Linked DNA regions of Homo sapiens. The protein of the gene in region 2 binds, or shares a complex with, the protein of the main gene of each other region. Each region holds a gene or a part of one and is shown on either strand. Other genes may lie near its edges. A codon is read from its position in the direction of its gene.

Region 1 (7,140 bases), on a different chromosome or scaffold from region 2:
CCCAGGTCTTTCTTCAAGGGCAGTCTCCCTGAACCCCCAAACTAAAGCTGAATCCCCACTCACTTCCAGCTTTCCTTCCCTGCTTCTATTTTCCTTTGTAACTGAACACTAAGTTCCACATGACTCCCCGCACTGTGATTCCCAAGGTGTGGGCCAGGATTTGAGGGGGTCCCCAAAATTGTTTCAGGTGTTCTATGAAGTCACAGCTACTTTATGATACATTAAGGTGTTTAGAGGGGAAAATCTACATTCTATAAAGACACCTTTTTGTTTATGTCTTGTTCACTGCTGTGTCTCTAGAACTGGCACACAGTAGGCACTCAAATATTTTTCCAAGAATAAAATATGTGTTAAATTAATTGCAGTGTTCTACATCCATGGATTATTTCAATTCCAACTGCATCATCTAATCTGAGTCATTCTCAGAGTTTTCTACCAAAATGCCCTAATCAAAGAGGCAAGTAAATACAAAAAAATGGGAACCAGGTGTGGTGGCTCACACTTGTAATTCCAGCACTTTGGAAGGATTAGGTGGGAGAATCACTTGAGCCTGGGAGTTCCAGACCAGCCCGGGTAACAAAACAAGACCCTGTCTCCACAAAAAAATTTAAAAATTAGTGGGGTGTGGCAGCACGTGCCTGTAGTCCCAACTACTCGGGAGGCTGAGGCAGGAGGATTGCCTGGGCCTGGGAGCTTGAGACTAAAGCGACCTAGGATTGTGCCACTGCACTCCTGTCTGGGCAACAGAGCGAGACCCTGTCTCAAAAAATAAAAGAAAATGGGGAATAAGTGGAGTTCCCCTACTGGCACCTTCTGAAGAGGCCACATGATTCTCTGAAATCTAATATTTTCTTGCAAGTGTTCCTGTGTATTTTCTTTCTATTCATTTCCATGTAAAACTGTTGTCCTTTCCTAGATCTTCAGTTAAAACTGATTCTCCATGAGGCTCTGCCTTTTCTTGAAGCTTCAAGGCACCCTGTCACCTCCCATGCTGCACCTCCCAAACTGAAGCCTCTGTCAAGTCATCGTCTCTGGGCCACTGCCAAGGCCTCCTGAATGGCTTACCTGCCCAGTTTACCTGCTGTCATCACATGACAGCCCACAGAGCTCAGTGGTTAAGAATTTGAATCCATCACCTGGATTCTACAGTGAACACTTTGCTACACTGGCTTCATCATTTCTCTCTGCCCACCTATCAATCCTAGATCCACTTTTAAAAACAACAGGGCAGTAAGTGAAAACGAAAAACCAAGTGGTTCCGATTCAAGGGTCAGGAGGATAGAAAGGACTATGGGATGAGATGGCTGGGAACACTTTAAAGAGAGGGTGAGCCTCTCCAGAGGCTCCAGGTGGGTTAAGACCCACTCCAGAGCAGTGGATCGCAAACGGAATGTGCGTTTCTAACATGGTCCCCTGACCACAGGCACCAAGTCTTTCAGAACCACTGCTCCAGAGCCAATATCCTTGGATGAAGTTCCTCGCTTTACTCATTCTCACCTGGGCCAATTCACTTGTGCTTGCCATGCCTTGGTTTACTCATACACAAAATGGGGGTGACAGCACCTCAAAGAATCGTGAGGATTAACTGGATTATTACGTGGGCACTCAGAACAATGCAGGGAACAGTGAGTTCAACACAAGTCACCGTAGCTACCAGACTGGCCCAACAGAAAATTCTTTCCACAGGATCAAGTCTAAACCCCTCCTGTTTCACCCATTTCTTCCTGACTGCTCAGTGGCAGAAACCAGCCACTAGATTCGCACTGATCCCAGTTGTCTGACCGCACTTCAAGTTTCCCCATTTTCATGCCCCGCTCCTTCTCCGGAACTTCCGTCTTCCTCACTTACCAATGTGTTATCCATCTTCAAGGCTCACCCCCTCTTTGAAATGTTCCCAGCCATCTTATCCCATAGTTCTTTCCATCTTCCTGACACTTGAATCGGAACCACTTTGTCCTTAGTTTTCACATACCGCCCTGTTGTTTTTTTAAAGTGGATCCAGGACTGATAGATGGGAAGGAAGGAGAGATACCAGCGTAGCAAAATGTTAACTGCAGAATCCAGGAAAAGTGTCTATAAAAGCACATGGTGAAATTCCTCCAACTTTTCTAAATGTGTGGGAATCTTCATAATAAAATGTTTTCTTAAAAAAAAAAAATTGGTACCTGCAAATCAGAGGTCTGGCCTTAACTCGAATCCAAAGAAACTGCATCCAGGGCTCTGGGCACAGCGAGCCTCCCCTAAGATCTGCCGTGACTCCTCACAGAGGAAAGGTGTGTACACCGGGGTGCGCAGCTACAGTAACTAAACTTGCAAACACTAACCATGACTGAGACAGCATCTGCTGCAGGGGACGCAGTGATCAGTGTCATTTCATTTGGATACAATTTAACCACGGCCACCAGGTGGGCTTCACGATGTACACATCCCAACAGCTGCTGACCAGCTTCCGATCCTCGCAAGCCCCCTCTGCGGCCTGGCCGTCGGCGGTGCCCTCTGCCCAGAAGAGGCGCGGCCCGGCCACGAACCAGCAAGCAGTAGGGCAGGGCGAGAAGCCCAGGTCGTGGGCTCCAGGCCGCGTCTCCAGCTCGCCCCATCACCCCAGCGCCTCCTGACAGCGACCACGAGCGGAGGCCCGAGCGCTGCCCCAGAACCTGCCAGCTCGCAGGGTCCAGAGACAAAGTTTGAGCACCTCGGCCAAGGTCGCCAAGGCCGGCGTGCGTCGACTCCAGGCCCACCTCTCCCTGGACCCTGTGGCCCCAGGGAGGCGCCCACGTTGGCCGGCGGGGGGTGGTTCTCGCGGGTCCCCGTCCGGGCTTGGGGTCCGGCCGGGAAGGCGCGGCTGGGGCCGGAGCTGGCGGGGCCGGGAAGCGAGGCCCGGCCAAGAGCGGCTGGCCCTAGGCGCGTGTCACTCACATGTTGTTGAAGCGGAACAGGTCGTCGCAGGTAAAGGCCCGTAGCGTGGTCATCGCGCCGCCGCCGCTTCCGAAGACCGTTCGCCAAGACCCCGCGCCCGCCCTGCCGGAAGTCTCCCGGAGCGTGGCCGCCGCGGAACCGAGCGAGACGGGGTACTGCTTCCGGGCTACGAGTTGCTGGGCAACGACAGCAGCAAAGCAGCTTCCTCTGGCGGCCGGCGGCGGGAATTGCCAGGTCGCTCCTGTAAGGCCTCCGGGGCTGTGGCTGCCCAGAACCTCGGAACCCCTCCCAGGCAGCGGCTGCAGAAAGCAGGCGGCGACACCTGGGAAGGAAAGAAGCTGCTGGTGATGCGGAAACCCAAGCAGAAGAGCGGAGTTCGCAGCCACCCGGTGCTGCAGAGTAAATGAGGAATGGGAGAATTTATGACCCAGAATCCCTTGTCCCAGTGTTGCGAGTTGCAGATGTCATCTTAAAATGTCAATACCACGTTTAAAAACAAAAAGAAGGCCGGGCGCGGTGGCTCACGCCTGTAATCCCAACACTGGGAGGCCAAGGCGGGCAGATCACTTGAGTTCAGCAGTTCGAGACCAACCTGGCCAACATGGCGAAACCCCCTCTCTACTAAAAAAAAAAAAAAAAGGAAAGAAATAAAAATTAGCTGGGCGTGGTGGCACGCGCCTCTAATCCCAGCTACTTGGAGGCTGAGGCAGGAGAATCGCTTGAACCCAGGAGGCGGAGGTTGCAGTGAGCCGAGATCTCGCCACTGCACTCCAGCCTGGGCGACAGAGCTAGACTTGGTCTCAAAAATAAATAATAAATAAATAAAAGCAAAACGAAATGTAAAATTGATTTTGATAGTACGCTTTATTTTACCCATTTATTTTTCCTATTTGGGAAAAATATTTTTCCCTGACCCCACTTTATTATACCCGAAATATCATTTCAACATGTAACCAATCAATACTCAACATGTAATCAATCAATAAAAAAAGGAATGTGATATGTTACATTCTTTTTTGCAAAGACTTTGAAATCCGGTGTGTATTTTACATTTGCAGTGCATTTCAATCTGAGAGAGCAGCTGTCATCGGAAATGCTTGTTCTCTATTTAGATTTCATCAATGTATGGTTAAAAAGCAGATTCTCATATCCAAGCGGTTCCAAATATACTGTTTTCAAATCGCTGAACCAAACATCAGTTTTTAAATTTAAAGTAGTTAAAATTAAAAGTTAAAAATTCCTTTATTCAGACCAGACACAGTGGCTCACACCTGTAATCCCAGCTACTTGGGAGGCTGAGGTGGGAGGATCATTTGAGCCCGGGAGGTAGAGGTTGCTCTGAGACATGATTGCACCACTGCACTCCAGCCTGGGTGACACACCAAGACCCTGTCTCAAAAAGATAAGATAAAGAGAGATAAAATACATAAAGCAAGCAGGAATGCTGAAATGTATTTACACATGAGTGTTAAACTGGTCAATATCCACAGAGCTGTAATCACTGTCTCTCCTGGGCACTGTATAACACTATGCATTTGTATTTTATGGACAAGAAAAATTTTCATTACTATCAATTTTCCTCAGCTTACAAATTTGTAAAATTTTGTATTGTCAAAGACAATAAAAAGCAGAGAAAACCTGGAAACGTGTACTAAACAGTAATCTTTTTCTGGCCATTTCAAAGTGTTTCATAATTTTTTGTGTGTGACATGAACTAATGTTGATTTGAATTTTGTTCCTTATGAAGTAGTGAAGGTTTTTATAATATTTTTGGCTCTGATTCATTGGTATTATAAACATTAGAAGTTTATAGCTACTTTATGTTTGTATCTAGGTAATGGTGGAATAAACATGATTTTGATTTTTAGAAAAAAACACTGTGGGTTTAACACAAAGGTAGCATTGGAACCCTGCAGAAACTGGATGCTGTAGGCCAGCAGTTTGCAAGCACCGATACGAATTATTATTCCGATTTTGAGGCACAGATCAGAAATATCCTATAGCTACGTGGCCATTCCAACACATGGGGTCAGGGGAACGTGCAGGGCAGTACAGAGAATATCCTGGATATTCACCAGCTGGTTCTCCCTTCTCTCCTGTTTGTCTACTTATTTTTAAACTGTTATCAGTTTCCATTGCTGATTGCCTCCTATGAATTAGCATCTCGAAGGGTGGCCAGTAAGTGCCTAGCAAATATTGATTAAATAGCTGAGTGAAAAAGTGGCACACAGGTTACCCAGAAGATAATGTCATCCTTGGTAGTTTACAAAGAGGGTATTCACATTCTCAACAAAGGTATTTCACCTCTCTTTGCCTCAGTTTCTGTAAAAGGTGCATAATCATAGCACCTACTTCATTGGATTATTATGAAGATTACATGAGTTAATATTTGTAAAGCAGTTATAACAGTGCTTGCCACATTTTAAGTGCCATATAAGTGTTTGTTAAGAAAAATAATGAAATTAAGTATCTTGCATTTTGAAGGATCAGAATCTGGAGATGTAGAGTTAGGAGAGGCACAGCCCTCAATCATAGACCTTAGCACAAATGGCTCTGGAGGGGTGATGTTTGCTCATAGTCCCCGATGAGCAGCTTAGAGGAGATGGGTGGGGCTTTGGAAGCCGCCTCCCTTTCCTCTTATTGTCTTGCTTCAACCAGAAAAGTCTACATGTTGACACACTTGTTTTATGGGTTTTAAAAATACCTTTTAGGGCTATTTACATTCTTAAAGACTTTTTAATAAAAAGGATATATGCACATTATTAAGAAATCAAAGACTTGTGGAAATGTACAAAGAATAAAGCAACAAATCATTGAAAATTTTGCCACCTGGGAATAAACCATGTTAACTCTCAGATAATTTCAGTCATCTCTCTATGTAGATTAAGGGGAGTGAGAAAGAGACTTTTACTTAAAAGGGATTCTAATTATATATGTTAATAGATTATGAAGTATAAGGTATTACTGTACTTGACTTTTTTCTTGAATTTAACAGAAGAAAAACAAATCAAATGAAAATGAAAGAGTGCCAGGCGCGGTGAGTCACGCCTGTAATCCCAGCACTTTGGGAGGCCGAGGCAGGTGGTTCACCTGAGTTCAGGAGTTTGAGACCAGCCTGGCCAACACGGTGAAACCCCATCTCTACTAAAAATACAAAAATTAGCCGGGCGTGGTGGTGGGCACCTGTAATCTCAGCTACTCGGAAGGCTGAGGCAGAAGAATCGCTTGAACCCAGGAGGCAGAGGTTGCAGTTTGCTGAGATTGCACCACTGCACTCCAGCCTGGGCGACAGAGGGAGACTCCATGTCAATAAATAAATAAATAAATAAATAGGCTGGGCGCGGTGGCTCACACCTGTAATCCCAATGCTTTGGGAGGCCGAGGCGGGTGGATCATAAGGTCAGGAGTTTGAGACCAGCCTGGCCAACATGGTGAAATCCCATCTCTACTAAAAATACAAAAAAAATTTAGCCAGGCATGGTGGCGGGCGCCTGTAATCCCAGCTACTTGTCAGGCTGAGGCAGGAGAATCGCTTGAACCCGGGAGGCAGAGGTTGCAGTGAGCCGAGACTGTACCACTGCACTCTAGCCTGGGTGACAGAGCAAGACTCTGTCTCAAAAAATTAAAAAATAATACAAAGAATAAATAAATAAATAAATATGAAAATAAAGAGATTGCTGAGCAGCACAAAATAAAAGCTCCTAAAAGTTTCCTGTAAAGTTTAAGATATGTATAGTATTATCTTATATATGTATTAAATGTAATTTCAATCTCCTAATGAGGATAATTAATGGTCAAAATCAGATTTTTTAATAGAAATTTCAATTTAGGGCACTATTTACTCTTTTTTTGTGTTGTTTTGTTTTTTGTTTTTTTGCTTTTTTGAGACAGGGTCTCGCTCTGTCTCCCAGGCTGGAGCGCTGGCAAGATCTCAGCTCAGTGGAACCTCTGCCTCCTGGGTTCAAGGGATTCTCCTGCCTCCGCCTCCTGAGTAGCTGGAACTATAGGTGTGCACCACCACACGAGGCCTTTTTTTTTTTTTGAGACAGAGTCTTGCTCTGTCGCCCAGGCTGGAGTGCAGTGGTGTGATCCCAGCTCACTGCAACCTCCGCCTCCTGAGTTCAAGCGATTCTCTGCCTCAGCCTCCTTAGTAGCTGGGATTACAGGTGCCCGCCACTATGCCTGGCTACTTTTTTTGCATTTTTAGTAGAGACGGGGTTTCAC
Region 2 (7,019 bases):
TTTCTTTCTTTTTTTTGAGACTCGCTCTGTTGCCCAGGCTAGAGTGCAGTTGCGCGATCCCAGCTCACTGCAACCTCCGCCTCCAAGGTTCAACTGGGATTGTGCTAAGATTACAGGCGTGAGCCACCACGCCTGGCCCTAATCTCTTTTCTAATACTTCCTTTACATTAAGGAGAAAGTGTCAGTTTGGTGCTAGCCTACTATTTCTCTAAAAATTGCTAGTATCTTTTTTTTTTTTTGGAGACAGAGTCTCACTCTGTCGCCAGGCTGGAGTGCAGTGGCATGATCTCGATTCACTGCAACCTCCACCTCCTAGATTAAAGCAATTCTCCTGCCTCAGCCTCCTGAGTAGCTGGGACTACAGGTGCGCACCACCACACCCAGCTAATTTTTTTTGTACTTTTAGTAGAGACGGGGTTTCACCATGTTGGCCAGGATGGTCTCAATCTCTTGACCTCGTGATCCGTCTGCCTCGGTCTCCCAAAGTGCTGGGATTATAGGCATGAGCTGTCGCACTCGGCCTTTTTTTTTTTCCAGAAGGAAGGAATAGGTCCTGAAGTTTCACAAGTATCAGAATCTGGTTAATAACATTGTTTAGTTTTCATTGTACTTTACTTTTACAGTTTTATTTTCCTACAGCAAGTGATACAAGTTTTCCACTCATAGCAATAATATAATTATAAAATAAATTTAATTTTAAAAGTCACCTTGGAGAAAAATATTAACTGATAGCACAGATAATACTATAATGCAGCTAAAATAATGAGATTAGGTAAAAGAACGATAGAAATTTGGGAAGAACTGGGATAAATCATTGGCAAGACACTATCAAAATTTGTTGAATGAACGCACAAGCTGCACTCCTGAGGTAACACTTCCCAAAGAAGCTACTAGTCCTTGGAGATGCAGGCAGCAGCAGGCCTGGACACATGCAGGCCTGCTGTCCACATGCCCTGGAGAAGAGGTCCTGGGATTTGTTCATCCAATCTTACTGAGGGATGGATACTGACAGTAGGAAAAGTATCAATTTTGCAAATAAAAAGGAAAGTTTTTCATCTGCATGTTCTTGCAGCTGCCATGAATGGTCTCCTTAGCAGCTGAAATAGTATGCTCAGTTTCCACTTCCTACAAGAATTTCAGAGACTATTAAAGATATTGCCACAACTTATAAAAACGCTAAATAGAAGAGAGCTCCATCTTTAAACACAATATCCTTTACTTAAAAATTCTAAAAGTTGGAGAATAGGAGCCTTGCTTTTACCATGAATACAAATTACAGAAGACACATTCCTTCACTCAGCAAGCCTTTGTTAAATACCTACCATGTGCAAGATTGCAAGGGACAAGGATGAACCTAAAAATGAATAATGCCTCCTAACTGACCGACCCATTCTACATTTGCCTCCTATTTATTTATGACAGAGTCTTGCTCTGTCACCAGGCTGGAGTGCAGTGGCACGATCTCGGCTCACTGCAACCTCTGCCTCCCAGGTTCAAGTGATTCTCCTGCCTCAGCCTCCTGAGCAGCTGGGACTACAGGCTCGTACCACCAGGCCTGGCTAATTTTTTTGTATTTTAGTAGAGACAGGGTTTCACCATGTTGGCCAGGATGGTCTCGATCTCCTGACCTCGTGATCCTCCTGCCTCAGCCTCCCAAAGTGCTGGGATTACAGGCGTGAGCCACCACACCTGGCCTTGCTTCCCTTTTAGTTTAAAGGTTTATTTCCCACACAGTATTCAGAGCTATCTTTTTTACATGCACACCTTATCACTCTACTCCTCTGGTTAAATCCTTTTAATGTCATCCACTGTCCTTTTCTTTCTTTTCACAGGTATTGATTCCATTGTCTTTTTTTTTTTTTTTTTTTTTTTGAGATGGAGTCTTGCTCTGTTGCCCAGGCTGGAGTGCAGTGGCTCGATCTTGGCTCGCTGCATGCTCCGCCTCCCGGGCTCACGCCATTCTCCTACCTCAGCCTCCGGAGTAGCTGGGACTACAGGCGCCCGCCATCACGCCCGGAGAATTTTTTGTATTTTTAGTGGAGACGGGGTTTCACCGTGTTACCAGGATAGTCTCGATCTCCTGACCTCGTCATCCACCTGCCTTGGCCTCCCAAAGTGCTGGGATTACAGGCGTGAGCCACCACACCCGGCCTGATTCCACTGTCTTTAAAACAAATTTCAATATCCTTAAAATGGATTACAAAGCTGAGTCGCTGCCCACCCCAGCCTCATCTCACTTCCTCACTCATTTCTTCATTCCAACTGCACAAGCCTTTGCTTACATCCTCAAGTGGACCAAGCTCCTTTTCTCAGGGTCTTCACCACCCTCTCCCCATCTCTTTGCCTAACCCTGGTTCTCTTTTCATGTCCAAAGTAAAACATCATTTCCACAGGAAACCTTTTCTTGACCTGACCCCAACAGTCCAAATGCCCCTATTGTATGCTCTCATGGCAAACTGTCCTATTCCTTCAAATCCCTTAACATAACTGTAATGGTGATGTGTACTGTCATTTCAAGGAGATAAGCTCCTTGAAAGCAGAAACTATGTCTGTGCTGTTTAGTACTCATTTCCTGCATCTATATTGTGCCTAACACATATCAGGCCCTCAATAAATGTTGAATGAAGGAATGCATAAATGAACAAATTGTATGGGGGAAAAAAGGGCAGTCTGCTAGAAAAATGAAAGATATATATATAAGATAATACAGGCCGGGTGCGGTGGCTCATGCCTGTAATCCCAACAGTTTGGGAGGCCGAGGAAGGTGGATTGCTTGAGGTCAGGAGTTCAAGACCTGCCTGACCAACATGGTGAAATCCCATCTCTACTAACAATACAAAAATTAGCCAGGTGTGGTGGCAGGTGCTTGTAATCCCAGCTACTTGGGAGGCTGAGGCAGGAGAATCACTTGAATCCAGGAGGCGGAGGTTGCAGCGAGTGGAGATCACGCCATTGCACTCCAGCCCAGGTGACAGAGTGAGACTGCATCTTAAAAAATCTATCAAAAAAAAAAGATAATACAAAGTGATCACAACAGGAAGTTCAAAGAACCAGTGATTAGTGATGGCTACCAGCTATTAAATTTTTTCCAAATCTTTTCAACTTTTTTTTTTTTTTTTGAGACAGAGTCTAGCTTTGTCACCCAGGCTGCAGTACAGTGGTGCAATCCCGGCTCACTGCATCCTCCACCTCCTGGGTTCAAGCTATTCTCCTGCCTCAGCCTCCCGAGTAGCTAGGATTACAGGCGTGCATCACCATGCCCAGCTAATTTTTTTGTATTTTTAGTAGAGATGGGTTTTCACCACGTTGGCCAGGCTGGTCTGAAACTCCTGGACTCAAGTGATCCACCCAGGAGGCGGAGGTTGCAGCAAGCTGAGATCGCACCATTGCACTCCAGCCTGGGCGACAAGAGTGAAACTCCATCTCAAAAAAATAAAATAAAATAAAAATTTAAAAAACTAGCCAGGCATGGTGGCATGTGCCTGCAGTGCCAGCTACTCCAGAGGCTGAGGCGGGAGGATCACTTGAGCTCAGGAGGTCGAAGCTGCAGTGAGCCATGTTCACATCACTGCACTGCAGCCTGGACAACACAGCAAGACCTTGTCTCCAAAAACAGAAAAAAAAAAAGAAATGTACTAATCTCTTCATCTTGCCCTATGTTTCAACAACTACCCTCTAATCTATGTATTCATCTAAGAATATTTTTGTGCACTAAAACCTTCATTTTCAGTTTAAAAGTCTAGGTCAGGGTTTTTTGTTGTTGTTGTTTGTTTGAATTATTCAGCTAAGACAGCAGAATAGTTTTTTGTTTATTTGTTTTGACATAGAATCTTGCTCTGTTGCCCAGGCTGGAGTACAGTGGCACAATCTCAGCTCACTGCAGCTTGAAGTTCCTGGGTTCAAGCATGCACCATCACACTAGCTGCCCCCCCGCCCCCCGCAATGGAGTCTCGCACTGGAGCCCAGGCTGGAGTGCAATAGCGCGATCTCGGCTCACTGCAACCTCCGCCTCCTGGGTTCACGCGATTCTCTTGCCTCAGCCTTCTGAATAGCTGGGATTACAGATGCACACTACCACACCCGGCTAATTTTTCGTATATTTTTAGTAGAGACGGAGTTTCACTATGTCGGTGAGACTCGTCTCAAACTCTTGACCTCATGATCCGCCGGCCTCGGCTTCCCAAAGTGTTAGGATTACAGGCGTGAGCCACTGCACTCAGCCCTATTTTTTATTTTTTTGAGATGAAGTCTCGCTCTGTCCCCCAGGCTGGAGTACAGTAGCACAATCTCAGCTCACTGCAGCCTCCGCCTCCCGGGTTCAAGTGATTCTTCTGCCTCAGCCTCCTGAGTAGCTGGGGTTACAGGCGCCTGCCACCACACCTGGCTAATTTTTGTATTTTTAGTAGAGATGGGGTTTTGCCATTTTGGCCAGGCTAGTCTCGAACTCCTGGCCTCAAGCAACCCACCCACCTCGGCCTCCCAAAGTGCTGGGATTACAAGCATGAGCCACCTCACCCAGCCAAACCACTGTGCCCAGCTTTGTATGCTTGTTAACACTTGGCCAAAACTGAACACAAAAATAGTCCAGAATGTCACAGGTCCAGGGCAAAAGACCAACAGGGACTGTTTTGGTTATGAGCAAGGTTTTGGTATGGCAGAGGTGGTCTCAGCCATCCAATGGTGATGGAAGTTCTAGATTCATTGAGAGAAGTTCTAGTAAGTCAGGGCTTTTTAAATGGTCATATTTTCAGAATGGAAAAAAATAGGTTGTGCCAAGTGACTTTTCTACAGAAACGCAAGATAGTCTTCACTCACCAAGGTACCCTGTCACTTCTGAGGCAAAATAGGACCAGACTCACAAAGCTACCACACTGTCCAAGAGGAGGTCAGAATAAATACCACTTTTGATTGAGGACCTGCAAGTTTTCATTTATGAACTAGAGCAGTGGTCCCCAACCTTTTTGGCACTAGGGACCGATTTCATGAAAGACAATTTTTCCACAGATGGCAGGGAGGGATGGTTTCGGGATAAAACTATTCCACCTCAGATATCAGGCATTAGTTAGAGTCTCATAAGGAGCGCCAACCTCGATTCCTCACATGCATAGTTCACAACAGGGTTTGTGTTCCTACTCCTAAGAGCTGATCTGACAGGAGGCGGGGCTCAGGCAGTAATGCTCTCCCCCACAACACCCTGCTGCTCACCTCCTACTGTGCGGCCCATTTCCTAACAGGCCACAGACCAGTATCACACACCATCCTGGGGTCAGGAACTCCTAAACTATGAACTATAGTGGAATAATTACCTGAGCCAGGCACCCAAGAGAAATGTCCTAACTCAGCAAAGAAGTGACTGTCACCCGGGAGACACACTGGAAAATATCTTACACCTGATCCAGGCTAATCCAAGACTGCAGGTCAGTACGACATATTAAAACAAGGGATCTCATGCCTGTGTATGTGTGTATATTCTAAAGACTATGCACACATTTTTTCTACTTTGAACTTTCTCTATTTCTATTATGCAATTTGCTGACCTAGCAATTCCCATATTCTATACAAATTTATTAAGTGCCATACCTGACCATCAATTCCACTTCCAATTATCTAAAAATATGAGCGTGAAATTAAAAACAAAAAAGAAAAAAAAGAAAGAAAAATAAATAAATAAAAGTATGGGGTAGAGGAGGCTGCATAACAAAACAGAGTCAAATATTTATTATCTCCCTCCATCCCTTCCCTTCCCTAATCCATAACCACTGAAAATGTTTTAAAATTAAGAATAATGGGGCCAGGTGCAGTGGCTCACGCCTGTAATCCCAGCACTTTGGGAGGCTGAGGCAAGTGGACCACATGATCAGAAGTTCAAGACCAACCTGGCCAATGTGGTGAAATCCTGTCTCTACTAAAAATACAAAAAATTAACCTGGCGTGGTGGCGGGCGCCTGTATTCCCAGCTGCTCTGGAGGCTGAGGCAGGAGAATGGCGTGAACCCGGAAGGTGGAGCTTGCAGTGAGCGGAGATCACGCCACTGCACCCCAGCCTGCAGGACAGAGTGAGACTCCATCTCAAAAAAAAAAACAAAACAAAAACAAAAACAAAAATTAGCCGGGCATGGTGGTGCATGCCTGTAACCCAGCTACTCAGGAGGCTGAGGCAGAGAACTGTTTGAACCCAGGAGGCAGAGGTTGCAGTGAGCCAAGATCGCGCCACTGCATTCCAGCCTGGGTGACAGAGCAAGACTCCTTCTTAAAAAAATAATAATAATAATGGGCAGGGCGCAGTGGCTCACGCCTGTAACCCCAGCACTTTGGGAGGCCAAGGCAGGCAGATTGCTTGAGCTCAGGAGTTCGAGACCAGCCTGAACAACATGGTGAAATGCTGTCTCTACAAAAAATACAAAAATTAGCCAGGCGTGGTGGTGCCCGCCTGCAGTCCCAGTACTCAGGAGGCTGAGGTGGATGGATGACTTGAGCCTGGGAAGTGGAGGTTACAGTGAGCCAAGACACTCCAGCCTGGGTGACAGAGCCAGATCCTGTCTCAAAAAAATAACGAAAGAAGGCACTGGGGCTTACCAAGTCACACAAGAGTACAAAATCTGCTGGGAACTACGTAGCAAAAGAGAATAATTTTAGCAAAAGGAGACCAAATAATCAAGTATGGGTTCCAGTAAGGTCATGGGTGGAGGTTTTCAAAAACGAAAAATGCAATACCCAAACTTATTAGTAATGTGAGATGCACTGGGAAGATGTTTCAAATCTATGCACACAGAAAAGCTATTCCAACCCTAGACACCACCAGTAAAATTTCAACCCACCACAATTTATCACCACATAGCCCTGTCCACATATACCCTCAATGAATTCCAGCAAGAGCTGAGGCCCCAAGCAAGGTTTCCAACACAATTGTAAAATAAATCCTGAAACCTTGGCAGTACAAATACTGTTGTACAAAGACAGTGATGCTACTGAATCTGAACTTGGTGAAGAGCTGAGCTCTCAGTGAGAATGTCTATGTTC

Evidence for each region. The genes of interacting proteins can lie anywhere in the genome.
Region 1: the proteins of NAA25 (region 2) and NAA20 are in contact, whole or in part, in a cryo-EM structure (PDB 7STX), measured with the Homo sapiens proteins. Residues at the interface, in NP_079229.2 of Homo sapiens: Ser226, Glu227, Ile228, Asn259, Asp261, Asp262, Trp263, Gln264, Arg318, Arg321, Leu325, Lys362, Pro363, Cys364, Thr367, Asp368, Val371, Leu457, Thr459, Glu460, Leu461, Ser504, Ala506, Leu510, Leu532, Asp533, Lys535, His536, Ile537, Gln538; in NP_057184.1 of Homo sapiens: Thr2 (codon at 2,966), Thr3 (codon at 2,963), Leu4 (codon at 2,960), Arg5 (codon at 2,957), Thr8 (codon at 2,948), Cys9 (codon at 2,945), Asp10 (codon at 2,942), Leu12 (codon at 2,936), Phe13 (codon at 2,933), Phe15 (codon at 2,927), Asn16 (codon at 2,924), Asn19, Leu20, Pro22, Leu23, Thr26, Tyr27, Gly28, Ile29, Pro30, Leu33, Gln34, Leu36, Ala37, His38, Pro40, Glu41, Pro49, Glu52, Met54.

The regions. Positions count from the first base shown.
Region 1 is NC_000020.11:20,013,226-20,020,365, reverse strand, and holds the start of NAA20 (N-alpha-acetyltransferase 20), read right to left. Parts: upstream 3,005-7,140; 5' UTR 2,970-3,004; coding exon 2,917-2,969; intron 2,572-2,916; exon of another isoform or gene 2,342-2,571; coding exon of another isoform or gene 2,325-2,341; intron 1-2,324. UniProt on the Homo sapiens protein: Catalytic subunit of the NatB complex which catalyzes acetylation of the N-terminal methionine residues of peptides beginning with Met-Asp, Met-Glu, Met-Asn and Met-Gln. Proteins with cell cycle functions are overrepresented in the pool of NatB substrates.
Region 2 is NC_000012.12:112,098,766-112,105,784, forward strand, and holds part of NAA25 (N-alpha-acetyltransferase 25, NatB auxiliary subunit), read right to left. Parts: intron 1-7,019. UniProt on the Homo sapiens protein: Non-catalytic subunit of the NatB complex which catalyzes acetylation of the N-terminal methionine residues of peptides beginning with Met-Asp, Met-Glu, Met-Asn and Met-Gln. May play a role in normal cell-cycle progression.